7 linked regions of the Homo sapiens genome follow. The protein of the gene in region 3 interacts with the protein of the main gene of each other region in a pairwise test. Each region holds a gene or a part of one and is shown on either strand. Other genes may lie near its edges.

Region 1 (3,343 bases), on a different chromosome or scaffold from region 3:
GGGAGGTCAAGGCTGTGGTGAGCCATGACTGTGCCATTGTACTGCAGCCTGGGTGAAAAAGCAAGACCCTGTATCAAAAATAGTAATAATAATAAAATAAAAATAAAGCTGGCACAGTGGCTCACGCCTGTAATCCCAGCACTTTGGGAGGCTGAGGTGGGTGGATCACGAGGTCAGGAGATCGAGACCATCCTGGCTAACACAGTGAAACGCTGTATCTACTAAAAATACAAAAAATTAGCCGGGTGTGGTGGCGGGCGCCTTTAGTCCCAGCTACTCGGGAGACTGAGGCAGGAGAATGGCGTGAACCCAGGAGGCAGAGCTTGCAGTGAGCTGAGATTGCGCCACTGCACTCTAGCCTGGGTGACAGAGAGAAACTCCATCTCAAATCAATAAATAGGCCCGGGCATGGTGGCTCACGCCTGTAATCCCAGCACTTTGGGAGGCCAGGGCGGGTGGATCATGAGGTCAGGAGACCGAGACCATCCTGGCCAACATGGTGAAACCCCATCTCTACTAAAAATACAAAAAATTAGCCGGGCATGGTGGTGGGCGCCTATAGTTCCAGCCACTCAGGAGGCTGAGGCAGGAGAATCACTTGAACCCAGGAGGCGGGGGTTGCAGTGAGCCGAGATTGTGCCACTGCACTCCAGCCTGGCGTCAGAGCGAGACTCCATCTCAAAAAAAAAAAAAAAAAAAGTACCACAACGACTGCTTGTATGGTAATGGATTATAAGAATTATTTTTCTTTTTCCCACTGCTTGATTTTTCCAAAATATGTGTAACTACATACTATAGAATCCTTTGAAGACAATTAATTTCCACTATGCAAAAGTGAGTATACAGCACAATGCCAGGCACATAGCAAAGGTTCAGTGTTAAAAAACAAAATAACAGCAAAAGACCTGTAACCTCTCATTAGTCTATATCTACAGAGACTCAAAACATTATGCAAGGGTGAAAGATAAGGTTGACTCGTTTCAAAATGAAATGATGTTTTAACCTGAAACTGCTCTACTACATTTCACATGACAAACTCAGCTGACCATTCCCATAAAGCACTCTGGCCATACTGAAAATCCTTGATTTTGTTTAAAGATACAGAACACCTTAATGATGGGTAACTTCGGGGAAAGCTACTCTGGTAGGAAGCCTACACAGCTAATAAAAGAATTTGTGCCATTCCACAATAGCAGTTAAGGTTCCTTAGAGCAATCTTAGTGCACTAAGGAACCTTACTGCTTCTTTGTTATGTAATGCAACAGTCTAAAGACATATTTATTTTTTGCTAAGATTTAGTGCAACAGAAACAGTTATGCAGACGGATTTTGCTGTTTTAAACTTTAGCATCTTTCCTCAGCATATAGATCAAAAGAAATATGTAGAACTTGGATATGTATGTCTTGTTAATGAAAACAACATGTGCAACAGAAAAGCCTTCTCAAAGTCTCAAGTGTGGGCAAACAACAGCAGGAGAGTCTAGAACACTGCAGGACACCAGAAAAACTCATTTCCAACAAAGAATAGTAAATAGTTTTCACAAATGAGACTTGTTCATGTGGTGATGGCTTTTAAAAGTCTGGTTCCATCAAAGCATAGCCATGGAAGAAGCTGTGTAATTTTTCATTACAGGAGAATTCTACTTGAAGCCATCTGATTCAGTTAAGAAATCTGGGGATGATTTGATTTAGGAAAACTGCTTTATGTTTATTAAATTACCTGTATGTTATTTATTTTAGAAACAGCGTCTTGCTTTATTGCTCAGACTGTAGGGCAGTGATGCAATCATAGCTCACTGCAGACTCCAACTCCTGGGCTCAAGTGATCCTCCTGCCTCAACCTCCCAAGCAGCTGGACTACAGGTGTGTGCCACCACACCTGGCTAATTTTTTGCAGAGACAGGTTCTCACTATGTTGCTCACACTCATCTTGAACTCCTGGCCTCAAGTGATCCTCCCACCTGGGCCTCCCACAGTGTTGGGATTACAGGACAAATTACCTGTACTTTTGCCCTCCTAAGATGCATTCAGGTTGACAATGAAAATACTTACATAAGTTTTCAGGAAATATTCTGTGCACAACAGCCAAGTTTTTTTGGAATTAGATGGATGAGTCACACTAGCCATACTCTGGAGCCTGGCAATGTGAGGTTTTGAAAAAGCATTCTTCAGTTTAGCTGATACCAAAAATGTTTGTGTTTTGTGCGGTTACTGGGAATTTGCCTGCAGCCACTAATCAGCTGAATCTTTAATCACCATTTTGCTCTTTATTGTTAGAATGTGGAGGTAAAATATCAAGTGTATGATACCCCTATCCTCTGACTTGAATATCACCATTATCCGTTTCCAAATAGCATTTCTAAAAGTAAGTTTTCTGTTTGTAAATATAATACATAATCATCATAGAAAATGCCAATACAGAAACCAAAAAATCAACACTTTAAATCCTACTAAAGATAGCCACTTAATTTAGTAAACATTCCAGATACATTTCTACACGCACCAAAAAAAAAAAAAAAATGTACAATTCTATATGAATATAGCTGACCATGGTATTTACAACCTGCTTTTTCTTCCTTTACTCATATGTCTCTAACTTTTTTTTTTATGGCAATGAAAACACTTTCCCTTCTATGGTTTCATTGTATTTCATCAATTAAATAAATATTGGCATATCTGTAGAATCTCCACCAATTTTAGGATCCTTCCAATTTTTTGCCACTACATTCAATGGAAATTACATTCCCACGCATGCATCTTTGTACAATTGTGTGATTGTGCAATCATCCAATTATCTCCTTATGAGAAACTTCTAGGATAAATTGTTTTGATGGGATTTCTAGGTCAAAGATTTGAAAATTTTTGTTACATCTTCTAATTTATGGTCATAAAAGTTGTACTAACTTTACCTTTCCACAAATACTCCATGAATAAATTTATTTTCTCACAGCCTTAGCCAAAATTGGGTGATCTTTCTTCGCTATTTTGTAATCTAAATTCAAACTGCATTTCATTGATAACTAGTGAGGCTGAACATCTGTTTTCTTCATTCTTCCTATGTCTATATTGAACTGCTCAAGTATTCCTTTTTGTCTGTCTTCCCATAATCCAAGTGGCACTTTAGTCTAACCTGAAGACTGTGGCCTCCTTTACAATTTGGTCAGTCATTACATTCCTCATCTTGGCAACTATTTTGCCCATCACATCACAAATACACAAAAGGCTGAAGAGCTGTTGTTCTCTGATTCCCCTCAGCTTCAAAATGCATCTTACCTGATGTACCCCTTGTGGAGATCTCACATGTCAGTCGCTTGAAATATTCTGGAAGATCGGCATAGTCATCT
Region 2 (3,500 bases), on a different chromosome or scaffold from region 3:
GTCTCAAACTGCTGACCTCAACACTGCTGCCACAGAGTTGGGATTACAGGCATGAGCCACCGCACCTGGCCTGGTTAATACCCTTTTGAATGTCAGTTGAGATGATAGAAAAAGTTTGAAGGTTACGAATATTGGCCAGTGGTAAATTGTGTTCCATATTCTTATATAGAAGACACATTTGAAAGTATAAAATGGTAGCCTATGTTAATAAGACTGATTAAATAAATTACAGGTACACATCCATTCAGTGGGATAATATATAACCATTCAATGATAAATAATTGTTGATAGTCATGTGATACGATGTAGCAATATGGAAAATGCAATAAGAATAAGAAAAGCAGAATACAAATGTACTTTACTGGAACTGTTAGCTTTACTTTCATGTTACTGTATCAATACCTATGAATGCTACTCTTAAAATTATTGCTAATGCTACTTCTAGTTCCATGCAGTAAACTTTTCAGAGAATGAATTTCACATCTGGTTAACTTTATAGTACAGTGCTGTTAGCAACTCAAATTAATACTCATAAATGCTTAGATATCTATTTAAGTGAAACCTCGATTTCTACTCTCAGAAGGTACAGAGACTTTTTGACACATAACTTTCAGTTTCCTAAATACTTTTATATATGAATATAATCATTTCGCTCATTTAAAAATCAAGGAATTTCTAGTTTTTTCTGCTTGTTTACTTATCAGAACATACTTTGTTCTTTTATTTATAAGCCCTGTTTTTCACCACTCTGTTGTTGTTGTTCATAATAGTGTCTTTGCCTACCATAAGTGAATCTGTTTACAGAATCTTGAGTTTCTTTTTATTCGGAACTACAGCTAAGTCATTTGGAAGAAAATTATTACGTTCCTACTTTATGCCAGGCACAGTGCTAGGCATTGAGGATACAAATCCTCAATTGATGAACAAATTGCTGTTCTCAAGGACAAACCTTGGGAATGGTTTTTGTCAACACATCAGTCATGCCATTTCTCCTCAGAGAGAATGGTACCCAATTCCTTGGATAAAATGCTAATTATTGCTTAATGTGTCAGTCCAGAAGAATTATTCCTTATAGCTACTTCCTCTGTTTTCCAAAAGTCATGACAAGTAAGAGCTATTATTTTCCTTAATGACTTTTCCTAGTTTATATAGATCATTGTATATATATTATGGTAGTCAGATGATTTATTTTGAATATGGGTCTTTTTTTATTAAACCACTCAGCAAAGATTTATTAAATGCGTGTTGAGCACTGAACTAGTCACTGGGACCACAAAGATGATACAGTCTCTTTTCTCATAGAATTACAACCTTCATAAGGATAGCAGAAAGAAAAATGTTACAGATTCAAGTTCAGCTGAGTCTTTACATAATACATGATGTTCTGTTGATTATTTTTATTTTTTTGATGCCACTATTAACAGCAACCAGTAAACATTATTTCCCCTCAAGCAGACTGGCTTCTAAACCTAACCACTTAAGTTTCTTCTTCTCCCTCATTACCTCACAGTCTTCATTTTGAATATTAAGTTTGGGGATATCTGAAGTAATTGAAATTGAGGGTTTTAAGATCTAAGTGAAAAGCTTTACTTGGGTCAAAAGGCAGATTTCCAACAAATTTCTTTTCTTATTCCATCTAGTATCTGTACATGTTTTGAAATTAAGGGTATATACAAATGTGAATTATGAGGGGTTTTTTTCTTTGTTGTGTTTTTTTTTTTTTTTTTTTACTTTTTCCTTTGAGACATTCTAAAATATTGTTAGGTGATCTAAATAATTTATTTTCTTTTTTCCAGCGGGTCCATATGGAATATTTGCTGGTAGGGATGCCTCCAGAGGACTGGCCACATTTTGCCTAGATAAAGATGCACTTAGAGATGAATATGATGATCTCTCAGATTTGAATGCAGTACAAATGGAGAGTGTTCGAGAATGGGAAATGCAGTTTAAAGGTATTTTTATTTTGTTGGATTCTTTGGAAAATTAAATATTTGTTCAAAGAAAATATATACTATTTTACATGCTTTAAGAGCCTAAGGATGTCATCCGTTTTCATTGCCATCATTATTTGATAATATTTTTAAAGATAGCTAAAGCTGGGTGAAGTGGCACATGCCTGTGGTCCTAGCTGCTGATGGGAATCCCTTGAGCTCAGGAGTTCAAGGACTAACCTGGGCAACATAGTGAGACTTGTCCAAAAAAAGAAATTGCAAAAAATAGCTAAATAAAAATATGATTGTTACATGTGATAATTATTTTGAAAATCAATATTTAAAAAAATGACTTGTTACAAATTCTAAGCCTCAAAAATTGTGATACTTACAGTCAGCTTCTTCATTAAGGTTTAGTTTTTTAAAAATACAGGCTTATATTTAAAACTGAGTTGATTACTGATTTCAATACTATAATTTATTCCAAAATGATTTTACAGATCTTAACACTCGAAATGTAGATAAAAAATATCTTTCCCCTTTCTTATGCCCTCATAACATCAGTTTTTACCACTTGTGTGATGCTGTCCCAGCTGTTTATCTGACCCCTGGGTCCCTTGGAACAGCTGTTCTGGTTTAGCTGGGTACTGAGATGGGTCCTGGACTTACTCATTTTTAAAAAAGATCTCCAAGTGATTCTGATGCAGTATCCAACTAAGAATCACTGGTACAGAACACCCTCTTGCAAAGAATTCCCAAGCCTTATAAGTTCCCTAATCCTGTTTTCTTTTGTTCAGGCTTTACATGTGTATAAAGACCAGCCATGGTGAAGCAATTTTAGAATATTTAGATAATATTCTAATAATCATATTTTATATGATTCTAAAACAGACAAATGCCTTTTCTCTGTATAATGGAATAGTGAAACAAATTTGATCACCACTGATTTTCTTTTGATGTATCTTTCAGAAAAATATGATTATGTAGGCAGACTCCTAAAACCAGGAGAAGAACCATCAGAATATACAGATGAAGAAGATACCAAGGATCACAATAAACAGGATTGAACTTTGTAAACAACCAAAGTCAGGGGCCTTCAGAACTGCAATTCTTACTCCCTTTCACAGACTGTCCGGAGTCTTTGGGTTTGATTCACCTGCTGCGAAAAACATTCAACAAATTGTGTACAAGATAAATTAATCTCACTATGAAGATTTGAATAACTAGACATTATTTATGCTGCCAAACTCATTTGTTGCAGTTGTTTGTAATGTCTAGTGGGGCTTCATCATCCTGAAAAGAAGGAGACAGGGATTTTTTTAAAGAGCAAGAAAGTCACAATATTACTTCTTTCCTTCCTTTTTTCCTTCTTTCCTTTCTTCTTTCTCTTTCTTTCTTTTTAAAATATATTGAAGACAACCAGATATGTATTTGCTACTCAAGTGTACAGATCTCCTCAAGAAACATCAAGGGACTCCTGTGTCACATACTGTGTTTTTATTTTAACATGGGTGAGGGAGGCGACCTGATCAGGGGAGGTGGGGGTACACATCAATTTGAGTTGTTCAG
Region 3 (3,500 bases):
AGCTTCCACATTGGAGGGGGCTGATGAGGAAATACAGCATAAGCTCAGGCAAGGAGAGAGGAGGAGCAGAGGAGCAGTGTATAAACTGAAGTGGTAAAGACTCAGAATGAGAGACAAGATGGCCAGAGTAGAGGGAAAAGAAGCATGCTAGATGTTGTGAGTGCCAGCACTGGGAATTACATCTGAGTTTAGGTATTTGGGGGCTCAGAAGTTCTCAGTTTACATCCTTTTGGGAATCATGGCGTTAGTCCATGAAGGAGGCTTGGACTGTTAGGCCATAGTATTTCCAGAACAACCCAATTGGTGGCTTAAAGCCGACAGTCCTGAAGTGTGCAGTATTTGAGCAGATAACTGCTCAAATTCTTTACTGCCAACAGCTTGAAGTAAAACAGGAGATTTTCCACCTGCTCCCTCACCCCTGTTGTTTCCAGATGCTCATACTAGCTGGTCTGCTCTGCTTGTTGCTGGATTGTGTTCCTTTTTTTCTTTTCCCTGCAGAGAAACCTTCCATTTTGTTTTGGCTTTGCAGGGTTTGGAGATAGCCCAAGGAGAAAAGGACCTGAAGCAACAGCTGGCCCAGGCTCTGCAGGAGGTAACTTTGCCATAGTACTAAGATTATAGTGGGCTGTGGAGTGGGGAGCAAACAGGCATCACATGACCACTGGCTGCCTCTGCTGCTTAGCCCATACCTCTGTGGCATCCCCAGTCTGTAAACAGAGCAGGTGGCAGCTGCTCACACCATCAGATCAGAGATTTGGAGCCTTACAAACATGCCAGACCTCAGCATGAAAACTTACATCTTTGTCTGAGCAGAAGTTGCTCTGGTGAAGATGGAATGGAGCTTTAGCAGTTAAGAGGCTCTCTGGGGAAGTGGCTCCACTTCTAGAAAGGTGAGGGCAGCAGAGGGAAAATGTGAGGTATGACTTGGCCACCAGGGCCCGTGAAGGCCTCTGTTACCGCAATGTTCCTGAGCTGTAGCCAACCAGAAACAATTGGGGAATGTTCCAGTTAAGCATTTTAGGCCAGGTTGAGAATGTGCAGTTTAACAATCAACAACACATATCAATTTATTGAAAAGGTAAAGCTCAACAGGACTAAAATTCTCCTAAAAGATTGCCTGTAATTTATTTAATTTAACCTGACTACTCTCATTTGATTATTTTTTTGTGTGCTCTTTTGCATCTTTAAAACCTACTATGTCTTCTACCTTTTATGTATTATGATTAGTAGTTTAGTGCCATTTAGTCAGGATGGTTCAAATCTCATTGGAAAGAGTGAGCAAATCACATAGGAATTTGTTCAGGGGAATTTATCCTTTTATCGTAAACCTACTTCCCAACCTTAACAGTGCTAACAGTCATACAGTATTGTAAGCATGACAGGGTGCCTGCCTTGATCTCCTTGAGGGTTGCACAAACAGCTTTGGAAAGAATTAGATGAAAATTAATTCAATCTTTTTAGAATTTTATTTTTTGAGCTTGTTTATTTTCTAGGGTGGGAGAGTAGGCATGTTTCCCATTTGGAACATTATTAAGTTAATATTCAGACATTGTTTTGAAATTGAAAAAGAATGTGGTTCTGCTAGTTGGAAATCCCTGAGGGATCACTGAGTACCCTGCACCCTCTCCTGAGACAGGAAAACACTCTATCATTTTGCATGGGATACTTGGCCATGCATTTATTAGCTTAAAATGTGATACTTTTAGACCGGGCACGGTGGCTCACGCCTGTAATCCCGGCACTTTGGGAGGCCCAGGCAGGCGGATCACCAGAGGTAGGGAGTTCAAGACCAGCCTGACCAACATGGAGAAACCCTGTCTCTACTAAAAATACAAAATTAGCCGGGCGTGGTGGCGCATGCCTGTAATCCCAGCTATTCAGGAGGCTGAGGCAGGAGAATCGCTTGAACCCGGGATGTGGAGGTTGTAGTGAGCTGAGATCGTGCCATTGCTCTCCAGCCTGGGCAACAAGACTCCGTCTCAAAAAAAAGTGATACTTTTAGGTCATGGTTCTATACCATCATGCCTGGGGGACATGCCACTCTCATGCAGTGGTGGTTTTTTGTTCCACCATGCTGATACTTTTGAAAGCTGTTCTTTACCAGACCATTATAAAAACTGTTTTTATAATGGTCTTTTATAACTGATTTCCTGTTTAAATCACATAATACCTTCCTCTCCAATCTCCAAGAAACTACCACATCTTTTTAAACCGAGTGATTCATAAGTTCTCAGGGAATTTGACTATAGTTAGAAATGGGTCCAGACCTTCACTGCCCTAAGCAGTCTGCCAGTCTTTGCTTTGAGTGGAAAAGAAAATAAAAAGATGTGTTTATATACAGCTCAAAAAACTTCTCTGAATGCTTTTCATACCTGTTATTTTCTTATGAACACTGAGGGAGGAGGGGGCACCTATTTTCCCATTTCCTTTTATTTTTATTTTGAGACAGTGTCTCGTTCTGTCACCCAGGCTGGAGTGCAGTGGTGCAATCTCAGCTCACTGCAGCCTCCGCCTCCTGGGCTCAAGTGATCCTCCCACTTCAGCCTCCTGAGTAGCTGGAACCATAGGCGCGCGCCACAATGCCCGACAATTTTTTTGTATTTTTGGTAGAGATGAGGTTTCACCATGTTGCCGAGGCTGGTCTCAAACTCCTGAGCTCAAGCCATCCACCCGGCTCAGCCTCCCAAAGTGCTGGGATTACAGGTATTATGAGCTACCACGCCCGGCCATATTTTCCCATTTTATAGATGAGAAAGTTAAAATACACATATCTAATTAGTGTGTCAAGTTGAAGACCCAGGCCTTTTGACATAACTGCTTTTTTTTGTCAGGAGATCACACATTTTAAAATTTGGTTCTTGAATAATATCTTTTCAAAAATACTTACCTTTACTCCACCTTCTTTTAAAAAGAATTTGAGGTGAGATTCTAAAGTATAAGCTATACTTAAGCATGAGAGAACTCATAAATTATGTTTCATATATGTGGAACCTCTTGACATTCAGCATAGGCATTTAGTCACAATGAATGAGCTGTTAGCTCCTGGGTGTGCCTTCTTCCAGAAAACACTGGCAGGGTTCAGGCAGCATTGTCTGAGCATGTAATATGTGATTTGTAGAACAAATAGGTTAAAAATCTTTTTTATTTCAATAAAAATGACTATCTAATTCTGCTGATTCCCATTTCCTCCTGATTATTTCATAAAAGCTGCTTCCAGTTCTGAATAGCTTTTAATTACTTACTAGTTCTTAAATACTGTTCCCAGAATCACTTGGGTGGCTTTAAAAAAAAAGAAAAAAAGAAAAGCACATTTCTGGGCTCCAAGCCAAACCTATAGAAGCAGACTCTGGGACACAGTGAAAGTTCTTCAGTTGACTTGGATGGCCACCAATGTTGGGTTAGTTTTAGAGGCCCTAGTCCATTTGGTGGCCGCCTTCCCTAACTGCCCTCTCCCCTGAAAAAAGCAGCAGGTAGGTAAGATAGCCCAATGGAATAAAGGT
Region 4 (3,500 bases), on a different chromosome or scaffold from region 3:
TGGTCATTTAATGTGCGACCTTGGACTCTAACTCCCAGGAATTCCTTAAACATTAAAATAAGACACATATTCACATTAAAATAAGACACATATTCATTATAAAGAATAATAATTAAAAAAAAAACCAATGGTAATAAGATCTCAAGCAGCAATACTCATTGAGAACTGTTGACTGATAACCATAGTTAGCACAGTGGCTATGGCCCAAATAGTTTCAAGTGGGTATGGCTGCTAGAGGACTATCTTGAACATGTTCAAGACCGGGTTTCCAAACTAGAGAAATGTTCTAAGAGAAACACAGTTGCTGAAGTCCATAAAGAGACGTAGAAAGTACAAACTAGACATTCTGGTCATATTAAAAAGGGATATCATTTTTTTCTTCCTCATAAATATTTACAGAATATTTCTTAGTTTTATTTTGGTAAATGGACAAAGAAAATATTAACTTCAGGAAAGTTAGTCATGAAAATACACTAGTGTCTCCATAACTTTATAAACAGAAAAAACACATGTAAAAAAATATTAAAAATGAAACCAAAGACATCACTGTTATCAAAATCTTTAAGCTTGCAATCTAAAACAGTCTTCTATTTTTCTTAGTTATTATTTGCAATTTCTGACATCAAAACTGGTATTCCTCATTAGCATTTAAGGTATCTGCAAATAGAAACAGCTGATATTGTCTCTAAAATTTGCTCTGAGACATCTAAAGATTTATATTAGTATTGTATTATCAAATAATAACTAGTAAAATAAATCTGGAATTTTCTATCAAATGAAGTGAACTAGATAACAGCTCAGCTTGTTAACATGTTACTCGCATTATGCGTTTGCCTAGCACAATGAAAGAAATCGCAAACCATGTGTACATTTGAATTAATGGTTCATAATGAACACCATTTTCTTTGCAACTGCAGTAAAATTAAAAACACAACCAGTATCACTTCACAGATACAGAAGTTAAATGGAATCACTCCCAAATGCAATGAAAATTAAGTATGATTAAGAAAGCTGGTATATGCACAGCAAAGTTTATACTACAAATTATTGAGAAATACCAACCTTTGCATCTAAAATATTGAGAGTTGTTTCAATTTGTTGGATACGAAGTGAAAGGTCTGCCAGTTTCTGTAAAAGAAAAATTAGAGACATAAAGACTTTAATTAAAATAAACTGTTAACAATAACTAAGGGCAGATATGAAAATATTAAAAACCATTAAATATTTGTCATATTCTAATACAGTACTGTCTTATTTACATGAGTAGGAATGAGAACTCTTCTATTACGTGTATTATAATGCTTCTCAGTTTCTTTTTTTTTTGGGACGGAGTCTTGCTCTGTCGCCAGGCTGGAGCGCAGTGGTGCGATCTCGGCTCCCTGCAACCCCTGCCCCCTGGGTTCAAGTGATTCTCCTGCCTCAGCCTCCCGAGTGCTGGGACTACAGGCACGTGCCACCACGCCCAGCTAATTTTTGCATTTTTAGTAGAGATAGTGTTTCACCATGTTGGTCAGGATGGTCTTGATCTCTTGACCTCGTGATCTGCCTGCTTGGCCTCCCAAAGTGCTGTGATTACAGGCGTGAGCCACCGCACCCAGTCGCTTCTCAGTTATTTTATAAAATTATATTCACTTATAACAAAGTTGACATTTTCTGCAAACTCATTATCAGAGCAGTAAACAATTGTTGAGACCAGAATATAAACAAACCAGGACAGAGCCTTTTGTTTACTACTGTACCTTTAGTGCCCAGAATAGTACCCTGACACTTAATAGGAGCTTAATAATTATTTGTTGATGAATGAAGAAATTTTTTCATAGAAAATAAAAGAATAAAAATTATTCAAAGACACGCTGCAACAAGGTCTGCCTTTATAAATTACTTAAATGCATCAGCATATACAATTCGTCCCAGATTTAAACATCTGTAGTTTGAAAAATAAAGGGGAATGGAATTGGAAGATGAGTAATTCATTTTGGAAAGAGAAGAGAAAAAACTAGAGTATTAAAATCTACTATCAAAATGCAAGATAAACCAGATAGAAGAGCTTATCATGCTTGTTACTCTGTATAATTAAATTGTCAATGTACCTCTGTGTAAATATACACCTATACAAAGAAAGGTAGCATCATAAAATATGACCATTCAAGTAAAGAACATTTACTTGAAACCTCCTAATCTTAAACATTATATTCAGTCACATAATCCAAGAGCAGTTGCCCAGTTTACAAGCTGGCAGATACACAGCATCCTGATTGTATTCTGGGATATTATTAAGATCCTGACTATTAAGTAGAACTTTACCATCCTGTGAAATGGTCACTTTGCCCACAATTAGAGGGGGCAAAAAACTGAAAGTGGCCACAAAGCAGATAGTGCTTCTTTACAGATCACTTATTTTTAGTTTAGCATCTTGATATCGACAAAGACATAATCTACAAATAAAGTATTAGGATCTAGTTTTCATGGTATCAAAGCTAAGTTTACCCTTGACTTCTAGAATTCATTCACATAAGGCTTTTAGGTAAACACCAATACAGGTTTATAACATGTATTATGAATGAATCCCTCTCCAAATTATAAGTGTATTCCTTAAAATCATAGAAATTTAATTTTGGCAAATCTAATCAGTCTCAATTCACTAGAGAAAAAATTCCACAGCAAATTAATATGTAAAGTGAATGAGAATTTCCAACTTATTTAAAAATGGACATATTGGTTTGATTGAAGGAAACACAAAAGGAAACAAAAAAATGGAATTAAAAATTTTTCTGTTTTAATATACCTATATATTTACTTTTAAGCAATAATCATCAATACTGTAAATATCTGAGTATTTACCTTGCTACATATGGTACAGTGTATATGCAACATATCAATTGAAATCTTACACCAAATCTATAAAGTAGGAACTATTATGCCAATTTTAAAGATGAGAAAATTGAGTCTCATACAAGTAAAATATCCTGAACTCAAACCCTCCAACTCCAGAGGCAATACACTTCACGAGATTTTTTTGAGATAATTTTACACTGTTAAAACATAATGGTAAATTCTTGGGTATTGCACAGAATTTTTGTTATCCAAAGCTAACAAATGATCAATTCGTTTCTCACTAAGATGATTCTGTGCCAAGAGGAAAAGCCTTTTGCTCTTCTGATTCTGAGATGATCATTTACAAAGTGGTTCTGAACTACAGTACATGAACTAGGATGAGAGAAAAAATTCTACCTTTATTTTTATCTACTTCTAGCTTAAATTCAGCATTGTTTAAAAACATAGTTAAAAAAAAAATCACCATAGGCTGGGCACAATGGCTCATGCCTGTAATCCCAGCACTTTGGGAGGCCGAGGCAGGTGTATCATCTGAGGTCAGGATGGTCAACATGGTGAAACCCCAACTCTACTAAAAATACAAAAAAAATTAGCCAAGTGTGGTGGTGTGCGTCTGCAGTCCCAGCTACTCAGGAGGCTGAGGCAGGAGAATCGCTTGAACCTGG
Region 5 (3,500 bases), on a different chromosome or scaffold from region 3:
AAATGATATTGGCAGTTTATTTTAGTGCTTTGTGCTTATTTAGCTCTTTAACCCAAATCCTCTAATAATGATCTCCTTAGAGAGTACACATACTCTTGGAAATGATTCATTTTTTTTGAAGGTCATATTTATTTATGTGGTTTCTTTTTTTTTTTTTTTTGAAGGGCATATTTAATAGCTGCTGCAAACATATGGAATAGTGCTTTAATCAGTGGTGAACAAGAAATTGCTGTTGTTGGTTATAAAAACAAGGGACATTAATGTTCTTGTTCTTGTACCATAGTAATGAGAAAAAAAAATAGTGGTTGAATGGTGTTTAATTTGTACAGTTTGTGTCAAAGTAGAATGGGCAGATATTTTGGTGGATAGGCTTTTGTCTTAGTTATAAAAATTAGGACATTTGGTATGATAAAGGCAGAGAATCTTAACAATTGGCACTGGCCCAGAAAATTCAGGGTGCAGTGACCATAGCGTGTTATGACTGCTACAGTAGGCATAGCCACCTCCTGAAGTGTTTTCAACTGCTTGATATACGGACTTTAGGCAGTTCTTGACTTGTACATGCTAATTCACTGCTTCCACAAACAGTTCATAGATATATGCTGCCAGATATTTAGTGTTGAAAACTTTTGCTTCTTCCAAATATTCATACAATATTCATGCTTTTACTATAATATATAGTAGATTGAACACTGAACCAAATGAGCTTGGGTTCAGGTACAGCTTGTGTAACAAAGCTTTTAGTGTTGGGCCTGTATCAAAGCAAGATTCTTCCCCCTTATTTGTAATTTCTATAGAGAGCATAGGCAAATTAATAAAATTTACTCAGTCTCAAAAGGGAAACCAAGTAAACAGAATGATGCTTTTGTGGAAAGTTACACTGTCCAAGTAATTGTTACAGGTGTTTTTAGTATCATTCTTTACATTTTCACACAAGTCCTAAATTGTTCATTCCTCTTTGCTACATGATACGAAATTTCACAACATACTGGTTTTTTTTTTCTTTTAACCAAATATTTGCAGTAATCCAATACAACATACTGGTTTAATACAAGAGCTTAGGTTAAATAAGTCTCATTATTACCTTATTTCCTTTCTCCAGTTCCCCAAAAACAAAAATAAGGGTATTACTCATGAATGGACTTGTTTTGATTCCTCTATCCGTGACTTAACAGTTTTTGCAGAATTGGATCTTTTGGTAGGAGGAGAAAATAGCTAATTTAGAGCATGGAACATTATTATATGGTGGGGGGGGGCATGGGTGGGAGTTTTTTGGTATAAGGGCTTTATGCACTTGGCACAAGAAGGGTATGGGAAGGTTGCCAAGGATCAGTCAAAAATGAGGAAATTTCTCTACTTTGTGTGCTTCATTCTGTAGTGATCATATACTCCAGATTCGTAGAGTTTTTCATACTATTCCATTTTCACAGTGAAACAGTTGAAGTGTGTCCTGGAATCTTTTTTTTTTTTTTTTTTTTTTTGAGACAGGTCTCAGTCTGTTGCCCAGACTGGAGTGCAGTGGCATGATCTTGGCTCACCACAACCTCTGCCTCAGCCTCCCAAGTAGCTGACATTACAGGCGTGCCCCACTACTGCCCAGCTAATGTTTGTATTTTTAGTAGAGACGGGGTTTCACCACATTGGCCAGGCTGGTCTTGAACTCCTGACCTCAAATGATCTACCCACCTCAGCCTTTCAGTGCTGGGATTACAGGCGTGAGCCACCATGCCTGGCCATGTCCTGGAATATTATTTGGGTTCTTTCAGTTGACTTCTCATACCTGGGAGCAGCACTATAATTTTTAGATGGACTGGGTTAGTTTCAGAGAATTGAGATGACAGCGTCTGTGGCCTCCTGTGACATGCACCCAAGTAAAGCTAAAATTTTTATGATTTAGCCATGCACATGATTGCATTAAGTCATGTTTCGTGATTGTTTAGGGATCCACCATTTAGGATATTGTTTGTGAGACTACTTTTGCAGTCTCGTCATCTCTACACCACTAACTCTCTTCTAAGCATGTCAGTACTTTGAGCCTGTTTACACTCTAGTGTTTATTTCTCCATGTTTTTCTCCATGCTCGTAAAATCATAGATCCATACATATGTGTATATATTTTATTATTTTATAGAAATGGTCTATGTTTAACTTAATATTTTGTGCCAAAGAATTGACACTTGAATAAGGTCAGTATTTTCAGTTATCTTTTCTACTAGAAATGGTCTAAGCAATTTTTCTCTTGGGAAAGAGATGATTACTTCATTTGTTTAGCAAAGTGTGGCAGGCACTAATCAAAGTGCTGGAGGGATATTCAGCTCTGCCTTGAGGGAGCTTACCCACCTAGTCACTGTATGAGGAAAGTCATAAAGTTTTAACTAACATTTGTAATACTGACTTATCGTTTAAGGAAAAGGCTCAGGGATAGTGACTTTCCAAGGACACGCAGTTAATGGCTGATACAGACAGCATTCTGAATTCTGGATCATACTTTTATTCTTACGATTATATCACATAATTTTAATTGTGACGCCAAGTAGAACTATAATGAATACCTGTATGATAAGAAGCAAAATTTATAAACATTTAGAATTTTGAATTCAGGAATTTTAATTTACCTTACAGTTTATAGTACTTATGACCCTAAAGAGATAAAGCGTTTTGAAAGTTGATAGGAAATTATATAACTAGATATTCCTATAGTTGAAGCAAATTTTCCCCTTAGGGTCTTACCTTTATCTCTAGTTAGATTTAATTAACTTCATTGACCTAAACTGTTTGATTTTAATGTTTGCCAAGACTTAAAATTTACCTTTTTATTAATGGTAGATAGGGTGATATGCCTAGCATAAAATATAACTTGGATATTTTAAGTTCAATCGGGGGAGACTGTTGCTTTTCTATAGAGATAAAGCAAACATTTAATTCCTATAAGAGAAAGTTTCTTTTCTTAAGAAAATAATTGCTCTTTTTAATTTTAATTTTAAGAAATTCTCAATTCATGTTCTTAGCTTATATTTGAAACATATAACATGATGAATGTTATTTTTAAAATGAAACCCTGCTGATCTTCAGTCAGATGTGTTTGATTTTTTTCTTTTTTAATAATAGCAGTGGGTTGCACCACCACTGTTCACTCCATTTCTTGATTACTCACAAATTAATATATTTGATTATCGCTTTTTAAAAACTTGATAATTGTTTTCCTTGGTTTGGGAGTTTTTAAAAAAGTCAATAAAGTTTAATATTAATGTTTTTTATCCAATTACAGGAGTCAGAAATACCATCAGAGGAGGGGTACTGTGACTTTAATAGTAGGCCAAATGAGAACTCTTATTGCTATCAACTTCTGCGACAACTAAATGAACAGAGAAAGAAAGGTATTCTTTGTGATGTCAGCATTGTGGTAAGCGGAAAAATCTTCAAAGCTCATAAGAACATCCTGGTTGCAGGCAGCCGTTTCTTTAAGACTTTATATTGCTTTTCAAACAAAGAAAGCCCTA
Region 6 (3,500 bases), on a different chromosome or scaffold from region 3:
TTTGGTTTTGCGCTTGGTCTTTCGCTGGCGTTGCATATCTGGGGAAAGGTACTCTGTGGGGCCAACTCTACCTGGTACTGAGTTATGCCGTAGCCCTTGGGGCCAGGCTGGTTCCAGATGTGGGGGTAATGCCTGTTCACTGGGTGACACTGACTGTGGGACACAGCCTAGTGGCTGGAGGGGTTTAGAGGCGGCAGTAGCTCCATTAGCCAGTACCTGGAAAGAAGAAGAGGTAGAGGAAGAAGAGGGAGTAACACTAGATGCTGACTCCTCCTTACAACTACTGGCAATTAATGCAATTGGTGGGGGTTTATCCCGAGCTTGTGGCTGGGGGACGGTTGTGGAGTGGTTCCAGGAAGCAGTACCTATGCCATGTGACTGGTTGGGACCCCTGCCTGCCTGCTCCTTTGAGAGGCCACTGCTTTGAAGATGTTGCCAAAAATCTGATTGGTAGGGGAATGCTCCACTGCCAGGTGTCATCAGGGACTCCTTTAATTTCTGGTGACTCTGTGGCAGTGGTGGCATCTGAGAGGGCTCCTCAGGCTCTACCTTCAATCCTTTCGTCTGGGTAGGCTTGCTAAGAGTTGGAGGACCTATTCCAATACCAACTTGCTCTGGAGCTGGCACTGGAGGAGGAGGCACCTCCTCTGGGGGCCGTCCCGCATGATGAGTAAAAGAGAGAAGGGATTTGAAATGGAGTTGGTCCCGACGGTAGACTACTCGGGCTCGAGTCTCTTCTATTTCTTCAGATGACCAGCTAATACCACAGCGGAGGCGCTGGGCCATAAACCAAGTCTTGACTTTCTCCATCTGCAACCCATAACGTAGGCAGAGAAGGGCAATGTCTGCTAGGCTGGGATAGGGAAAGTAGCTGAAGGTTTTGAGCAGGTGTTCATTGCTGTCTAGCTCACTGGTCTGGGCTGCTTGCGTCCACACAAGCTGTAGCTCCTCAGAGATTGGAGGGAGGCAGATGAGCCCCGCTGGTGAACTACTGAGACCGCTGGCCTCTTTATTAGGAGGCATGGTGCCTTCTGATTTGTGCCCTTCAGAGATAGCTGCAATAAGAAGACAAACAGCTCAATCACTGGGTCTCCTCTTCTGACACACTGCTCAATTTCTACCAAACTAACTGCTGGACACCAGAACAATTTAATCTGTATTTGTATCATGTTGTATTGCTTTTTAAGTGCCTCAACAATTTCTTATTTAATTTTCATAAACTTAAGTCATCAGACCCTGCTTTAATTCCCATTTTCTGTGGACCAAAGTCCATAGACGTTAAATTACCCCAAGCCACATGACTGGTGAGTGTTGTTCCAAGAAAAAAATCTGTCTTTAAAGCCAGCCATGGTGGCTCATGCCTGTAATCCCAGCACTTCGGGAGGCCGAGGTGGGAGGATTGCTTGAGCCCAGAGCTTTGATACCAGCCTGGGCAACACAGTGAGACTACAAAAAATTTAAAAATCAGCTGGGCATGGTGGTTCGTGCCTGTCGTCCCAACTACTTGGGAGGCTGAGGCAGGAGGACTGCTTGAGCCTGAGAGGTTGAGGCTGCAGTGAGCTATGATTGCACCACTGCACTCCAGCCTGGGTGATAGAGTGAGACCCTATCAAAAAAAAAAAAAATCTGTCTTTAGAAGTTAAGAAGGAAAACTGATCCTGATATAGCTTTTTTTAGTGTGTATGTGTGTGTCTGTGTGTGTGTGCGTGTGTTTTGAGATGGAGTCTCACTCTCTCGCCCAGGCTGGAGTGCAGTGGCATGATCTTGGCTCACTGCAACCTCCACCTCCCAGGTTCAAGCAATTCTCTACCTCAGCCTCCCGAGTAGCTGGGATTACAGGTGCCCGCCACCACGCCCGGCTACTTTTTGTATTTTTAGTAGAGATGGGGTTTCACCGTCTTGGCCAGGCTGGTCTTGAACTCCTGACCTCGTGATCCACCTGCCTCTGGCCTCCCAAAGCTGGAATTACAGGCATGAGTCACCACACCCAGCTGGTGGGTTGTTTTTTTTTAAAGAGATAATATTGCTCTGTCACCCAGGCCACCCAGGCTGGAGTGCAGTGGCACCATCATAGCTCTGATACAGCCTTTATCTTTCCTATTCAAACCCACTTCTAGAAGCTATCCACCAACTCTCACCTTCTAAATTCATGGAACAAGAATCACATAGTGAAGACTCAACCACAAAAACAAGAGGAGCAATAATTTCAACTGGTTTGTGTGTGTGTGCATTTTTGTTTTTGTTTTTTCAAGAGACAGGGTCTCACTCTGTTGCCTAGGCTGGAGTGCAGTGGCATGATCATGGCTCATTGCAGCTTTGAACTCTTAGGCTCAAGCAATCCTCCCACCTCAGCCTCCCAAGTAGCTAGGACTACAGGTACATGCAGCCATATCCGGCTAATTTTAAAATTTTTTGTAGACAGGGTCTCACTATGTGGCCTAGGCTGGTCTCAAACTCCTAGCCTCAAGTGATCCTCCCACCTCAGCCTCCCAAACTGCTGAGATTACTGGAGTGAGCCACTGTACCCGGCCCTCAGAATTGTTTGTTTGTTTGTTTGTTTTTGAGCAGGATCTTGCTCTGTTGCCTAGACTGGAGTAGAGTGGCATGATCTCAGCTTACTGCAGCCTCCGCCTCCTGGGTTCAAGTGATTCTTGTGCCTCAGCCTCCTGAATAGCTGGGACTACAGGCGTGTGCCACCATGCCCTGCTACATTTTGTATTTTTAGTAGAGACGAGGTTTTACCATGTTAACCAGGCTGGTCCCGAACTCCTGACCTCAAGTGATCCACCGGCCTCGGCCTCCCAAAGTGCTGGGATTACAGGCGTGAGCCACGGCGCCTGGCCAGAATTGTTAATAACTATTTTTTTTTTTGAGACAGAGTCTTTCTGTCACCCAGGCTGGAGTGCAGTGGCGTGATCTTGGCTCACTGCAACCTCCACCTCCCGGGTTCAAGTGATTCTCCTGCCTCAGCCTCCTGAGTAGCTGGAATTACAAGCGTGCACCATGATGCCCAGCTAATTTTTGTACTTTTAGTAGAGACGAAGTTTCACTATTGTTATAAATAAAGTTTCGGTGCCACAAAAGAAATAGCAATCGAATATAAAATTTTCTTTTTTTTTTCTTCTCAGTAGGGCAATTTACTTCTATAGAAGGGTGCGCCCTCATAGATGGAGCAGTGGTGAGCACACACCTGGACAAAAGAGGGGAAGAAGTTCTTATTCCTGACACAGGTGGCCCCTGCCGCTGTCATTCCCATATTGGCTAGGGTTAGACCGCACAGGCTAAACTAATTCCGATTGGCTAATTTAAAGAGAGTGACCGGGTGAGTGGTTTGGTGGGGAAAATGGTTATGGCAGAGCAGGAAATCGGAAGGAGTCAGGGTGGAGAATGAGTCAGGGCAGAGCAGGTAATCGGAATGAGTCAGGGTGGAGCAGGTGATCGAAAAAGGTTGCTTTACAAGGAAGTTAAGTTTAAAAGTAGAAGGCAAAGAATTGAACATA
Region 7 (3,500 bases), on a different chromosome or scaffold from region 3:
AATAACTTTTGTTTTCCTGTTCATTCCTACTTGTATTATTTCCTCCTCCTGCTTCGGGCTTGTTTTTCCCTTCGTTTCTTGAAGTAGGAATTTAGAGAAGCGATTTGAGATCTTTCTCCTTTCCTGATACAGGCATTGAGTGCTGTCCGTTTCCCTCTAAGCACTGCCTTGGGTGCGTCTGGCAAATTTCATTATGCTGTATTCTTGTTTCCATTCTGTTCTCTTTTTTATTTCCTTCGAGGCATCCCATTTGACTCGTGGATTACTTAGAAGTGTGCTGTTTAATTTCCAGGCACTTACAGTTTTCCTGTTGTCTTTCTCTGACTGGTTTCTGGTTTTGATGTCCACTGGTGTGGCCTCCACCTCTTCACGCCACCCCACAGATGAACAGCATTCACATAACTTCCCAGTATCTCGAAGTAGCATCGTTTCCATTTCCTGCGTGTCTTCTCATTTTACTGCATTATTTCAGCTTTCCTTGTTTGAGCCAGGATTCAGGGCTTCCTTCATTCCATCTCTAGCTTCCTCCCCTCGAGTTTCCCAGTTCATGGAGTTTCTCTTGGACCCTCAGCAGCAGGGGGTCTTGTTCTTGACAGGAATCCCTCACACTTCCCCCTTGGCCTCCGAGCCCCACCACATCCTGCGGTTGGTGGTGTGTGGAGAAAGTGGTGTGTGGAGAGAGTTGGTGGTGTGCGCTGTCTCTGCTCTCCAAGCCCTTTGTCAGCCCCCACCCCTCCCTCACTCCGTGCCTCTTGTCCGTGCCCGCTGGGACACCATGGGGCTCGGCTCAGGGGATGGTGGGACCAGCGCTTAGTAAGACTAGTCAGCCCTAGGCACCGAGTGAGCACTGCTCACGTGGCAGAGCTGGAATGGGGGCCGGGCACACAATCCCTGGCCCACGTGTTCCACGGACATGCTGCAGAGGTCCCCGGCCCTCCAGGGCAGGCCCTCTCTGCTTCCAGAGGGGCAGGTGAGCCCCAGGCCAGGCCAGCGAGGGTCTGGACTAGAGTGCAGTGGCCACAATGGACGCCGCGAGTGTCTTCATTAAGAGTGAGTGTCTCAGTCTCCCCCAGGGCGCCCGCCAGCCACAGGGCCGCTATGTGCGCAGACTAGACAGGTGGCAGCTCGGGCCGGCCAGGCAGAGGGAGAGGAAGCCAGAGCCTGCGCGCAGGCAGCCTCAGAAGTATTTCCAGCCACAGCCAACGTGTCTTACTGGCAATTTGCTTTTTAAAAAATTGCAGTTTAATTTTAAGTGAGCAGCCCGTAATTACAGTGATTTACGAGGTACCTGGGGACTGTGTGATATTTGAACATGGCAGAGGGCTGAGCAGCGATGGCAGAGATGGATGGGCCCGGCGCCACTCATTCAGCAGGTCCTGCTAATGCCGGAGCGTTAGACCGAGGTGGAGCCTCCCAATGTGGCTGGGTACGCTGGGGGAAACGGAGTCAGAGGTGGGCTGCACAGCAGGTCGACTTGTTCACCGGGGGCTGGTGTTTTGCAAACGCTGGGTCTGCCTTCGTGTGGGGTTTGAGCTGGGAGAGTAGCACTGGTTACTCCTGCCTGTCTCCGTCCACCCCCACCCCCACCTGGAGGGCAGCGCGGTATATTAGGGCATCATTCTTCCAGAGCCGCCTGAGGCCGGCAGAGAGGAGGTGCTGTAGGAGCCGTGAGTGGGTTGCCCGGCCTACCATTGGGAGCAGCTGTCTTGCTGACGCTGGCGGGGTGCACCTGTTTCAAATAAAGAATGATCAGAGCTCACGCCTGTAATCCTCACGTCGTGGGCAGCTGAGGCAGGAGGATCACGTCAGGCCAGGAGTTTGAGACCAGCCAGGCCAGGAGTTTGAGACCAGCCTGGGCAAAATAGCTAAAGTCTATCTATCTCTCAAAAAAATTTAAAAATTAGCCAGGTGTGCTGGCACATGCCTGTCATTCCAACTGCTCAGGAGGCTGAGGTGGATCACTTGAGTCCGGGAGCTCGAGGCTGAGTGACCCGTTATCATGCCACTGCACTCCAGCCTGGGTGACAGAGTGAGACTCGTCTCTAAAAAAAAATATTTTTAGAAATGAACGGCCAGGCTCCCAAAGCCTGCCAGCCTCTGAGGGCCGGGGAAGGCGGGTGCCTGGAAAACAGCTATTCTCTGGTCCAGCCTGGCCAGAGTCTGCACCACAGTGCGTCAGGCCCAGCCAGGTTGCCAGCCCTGGGTTGGGAGGAGGGCGAAGGGCCGGCTGAGGAGACTTCTTCCCACACTGCCTCCCCACCCCTGCCCGGCAGCTGCAGGAGAATCAGCCCCTCTGACATTTAGGGGGAGAAATTCAGAATCAAGAGCAGAAGGCAGAAGTGAAAGGATTTTCTCAGCGAAAGGTCAGAGTGGTTTCTCTTGTTTTTGTTTAAAAATGGTTTGTGTTGAACTATGACAAGGCCAAATGTACTAAGGCAGCAGAAACAGGGGGAGGGCAGGGGGAGGGCACGGGGACGGCTCCTGAGAAACAGGAGGTGCAGGAACAGGTCAGGTCGCAGGGCCTCTGGGGCAGCACGTGCTCCAAAGGTGGTGAGGGGAGGGGCGACACCATCAGGGCGGGGCCCAGCCCAGGCATGCTCCGGTGGACAGGGGAGCTGCCAGGACCAAGCTGGATGGAGCCAGGCCGCCCTGTGGCTCCTGGGGAGGGTTCCCAGAGGGCTGCCGGGCGGAGGGAGCGCTTTCCAAAACGGTTTCCTGAGCTCCGATGCACACACATGCAGCTCACCCTCACGTCTAGCGCTCCATTAGTCTACCGTTCCGTTCCTCCCGGCACATTCAGTGCGCAGCCGCGACCAGTCTAACCGTGGCACATTTCCACTGGCCCTGAGCCCTGACGTGCCCCTCCAGGACATCCCCTGGGCACGGAGTTGTGTCGACAGGTCTCTGTGACTGGCTGGGCGTGTTTTCGGGGTTTGCCCGCGTGGCAGCGTGTATCAGAGTTCGGCTGTACGAAGCGGTGTTGACGGGTAAACCCGGTTTTGTGTCTCCCTCCGGCGGTTGAGGGCTGGTTCCGCGTTCCATCTGTTGGTGATGGGATCGTGTTGCCGTGGACACCCGTGCCGAGGTCTGTGCGTGGACTGCGCTCAGACCCCCTGGCTGCGCGCCCGGGCGGGTGCTGGGCCCATGGACTCTGCGTCCAGCTCTTTGAGGAGCTGCCGGCTGTTTGCAGTGGCCGCACCACACACGCTCCCGCCAGCGACGCGGAGGGTCTGATTCCCCTCGACCCAGCAGCTCATGGTGGTTGCTCTCAGTGGCCGTCGGCGCGAGGCGGCTCCGTGTCTCGCTCAGTTGCGGTTCACGTTTCCCCGGTGCCCAGCGTCCTGGCATGAGCTCATTGGCCGTGTGTGGCTCTTCTCTGGAGAAATGTTCAAGGGCCCCTTGTTTAATTGGCTCTTTCCTCTTCATGGTGGAGTTGTGGGAGTTCTGGGCATATTCTGGGTACAGGACTTTTCAGGGACGTGGTTTCAGAGGGAGCTTTG

What was found.
Region 1: the proteins of RNF8 (region 3) and FAM118B interact in binary tests that used the Homo sapiens proteins (3 or more experiments, as listed by UniProt).
Region 2: the proteins of RNF8 (region 3) and PGRMC2 interact in binary tests that used the Homo sapiens proteins (3 or more experiments, as listed by UniProt).
Region 4: the proteins of RNF8 (region 3) and WASHC3 interact in binary tests that used the Homo sapiens proteins (3 or more experiments, as listed by UniProt).
Region 5: the proteins of RNF8 (region 3) and ZBTB10 interact in binary tests that used the Homo sapiens proteins (3 or more experiments, as listed by UniProt).
Region 6: the proteins of RNF8 (region 3) and HOMEZ interact in binary tests that used the Homo sapiens proteins (3 or more experiments, as listed by UniProt).
Region 7: the proteins of RNF8 (region 3) and MAD1L1 interact in binary tests that used the Homo sapiens proteins (3 or more experiments, as listed by UniProt).

What each region holds. Positions count from the first base shown.
Region 1 is NC_000011.10:126,256,782-126,260,124, reverse strand, and holds part of FAM118B (protein FAM118B), read right to left. Parts: coding exon 3,273-3,343; coding exon of another isoform or gene 3,255-3,272; intron 1-3,254. UniProt on the Homo sapiens protein: May play a role in Cajal bodies formation.
Region 2 is NC_000004.12:128,270,814-128,274,313, reverse strand, and holds part of PGRMC2 (membrane-associated progesterone receptor component 2), read left to right. Parts: intron 1-1,796; coding exon 1,797-1,952; intron 1,953-2,900; coding exon 2,901-2,998; 3' UTR 2,999-3,500. UniProt on the Homo sapiens protein: Required for the maintenance of uterine histoarchitecture and normal female reproductive lifespan. May serve as a universal non-classical progesterone receptor in the uterus.
Region 3 is NC_000006.12:37,370,983-37,374,482, forward strand, and holds part of RNF8 (E3 ubiquitin-protein ligase RNF8), read left to right. Parts: intron 1-529; coding exon 530-592; intron 593-3,500. UniProt on the Homo sapiens protein: E3 ubiquitin-protein ligase that plays a key role in DNA damage signaling via 2 distinct roles: by mediating the 'Lys-63'-linked ubiquitination of histones H2A and H2AX and promoting the recruitment of DNA repair proteins at double-strand breaks (DSBs) sites, and by catalyzing 'Lys-48'-linked ubiquitination to remove target proteins from DNA damage sites.
Region 4 is NC_000012.12:102,044,992-102,048,491, forward strand, and holds part of WASHC3 (WASH complex subunit 3), read right to left. Parts: intron 1,129-3,500; coding exon 1,063-1,128; intron 1-1,062. UniProt on the Homo sapiens protein: Acts as a component of the WASH core complex that functions as a nucleation-promoting factor (NPF) at the surface of endosomes, where it recruits and activates the Arp2/3 complex to induce actin polymerization, playing a key role in the fission of tubules that serve as transport intermediates during endosome sorting.
Region 5 is NC_000008.11:80,496,226-80,499,725, forward strand, and holds part of ZBTB10 (zinc finger and BTB domain-containing protein 10), read left to right. Parts: intron 1-3,268; coding exon 3,269-3,500. UniProt on the Homo sapiens protein: May be involved in transcriptional regulation.
Region 6 is NC_000014.9:23,276,133-23,279,632, forward strand, and holds part of HOMEZ (homeobox and leucine zipper protein Homez), read right to left. Parts: intron 1,056-3,500; coding exon 1-1,055. UniProt on the Homo sapiens protein: May function as a transcriptional regulator.
Region 7 is NC_000007.14:1,816,946-1,820,445, reverse strand, and holds part of MAD1L1 (mitotic spindle assembly checkpoint protein MAD1), read left to right. Parts: intron 1-3,500. UniProt on the Homo sapiens protein: Component of the spindle-assembly checkpoint that prevents the onset of anaphase until all chromosomes are properly aligned at the metaphase plate.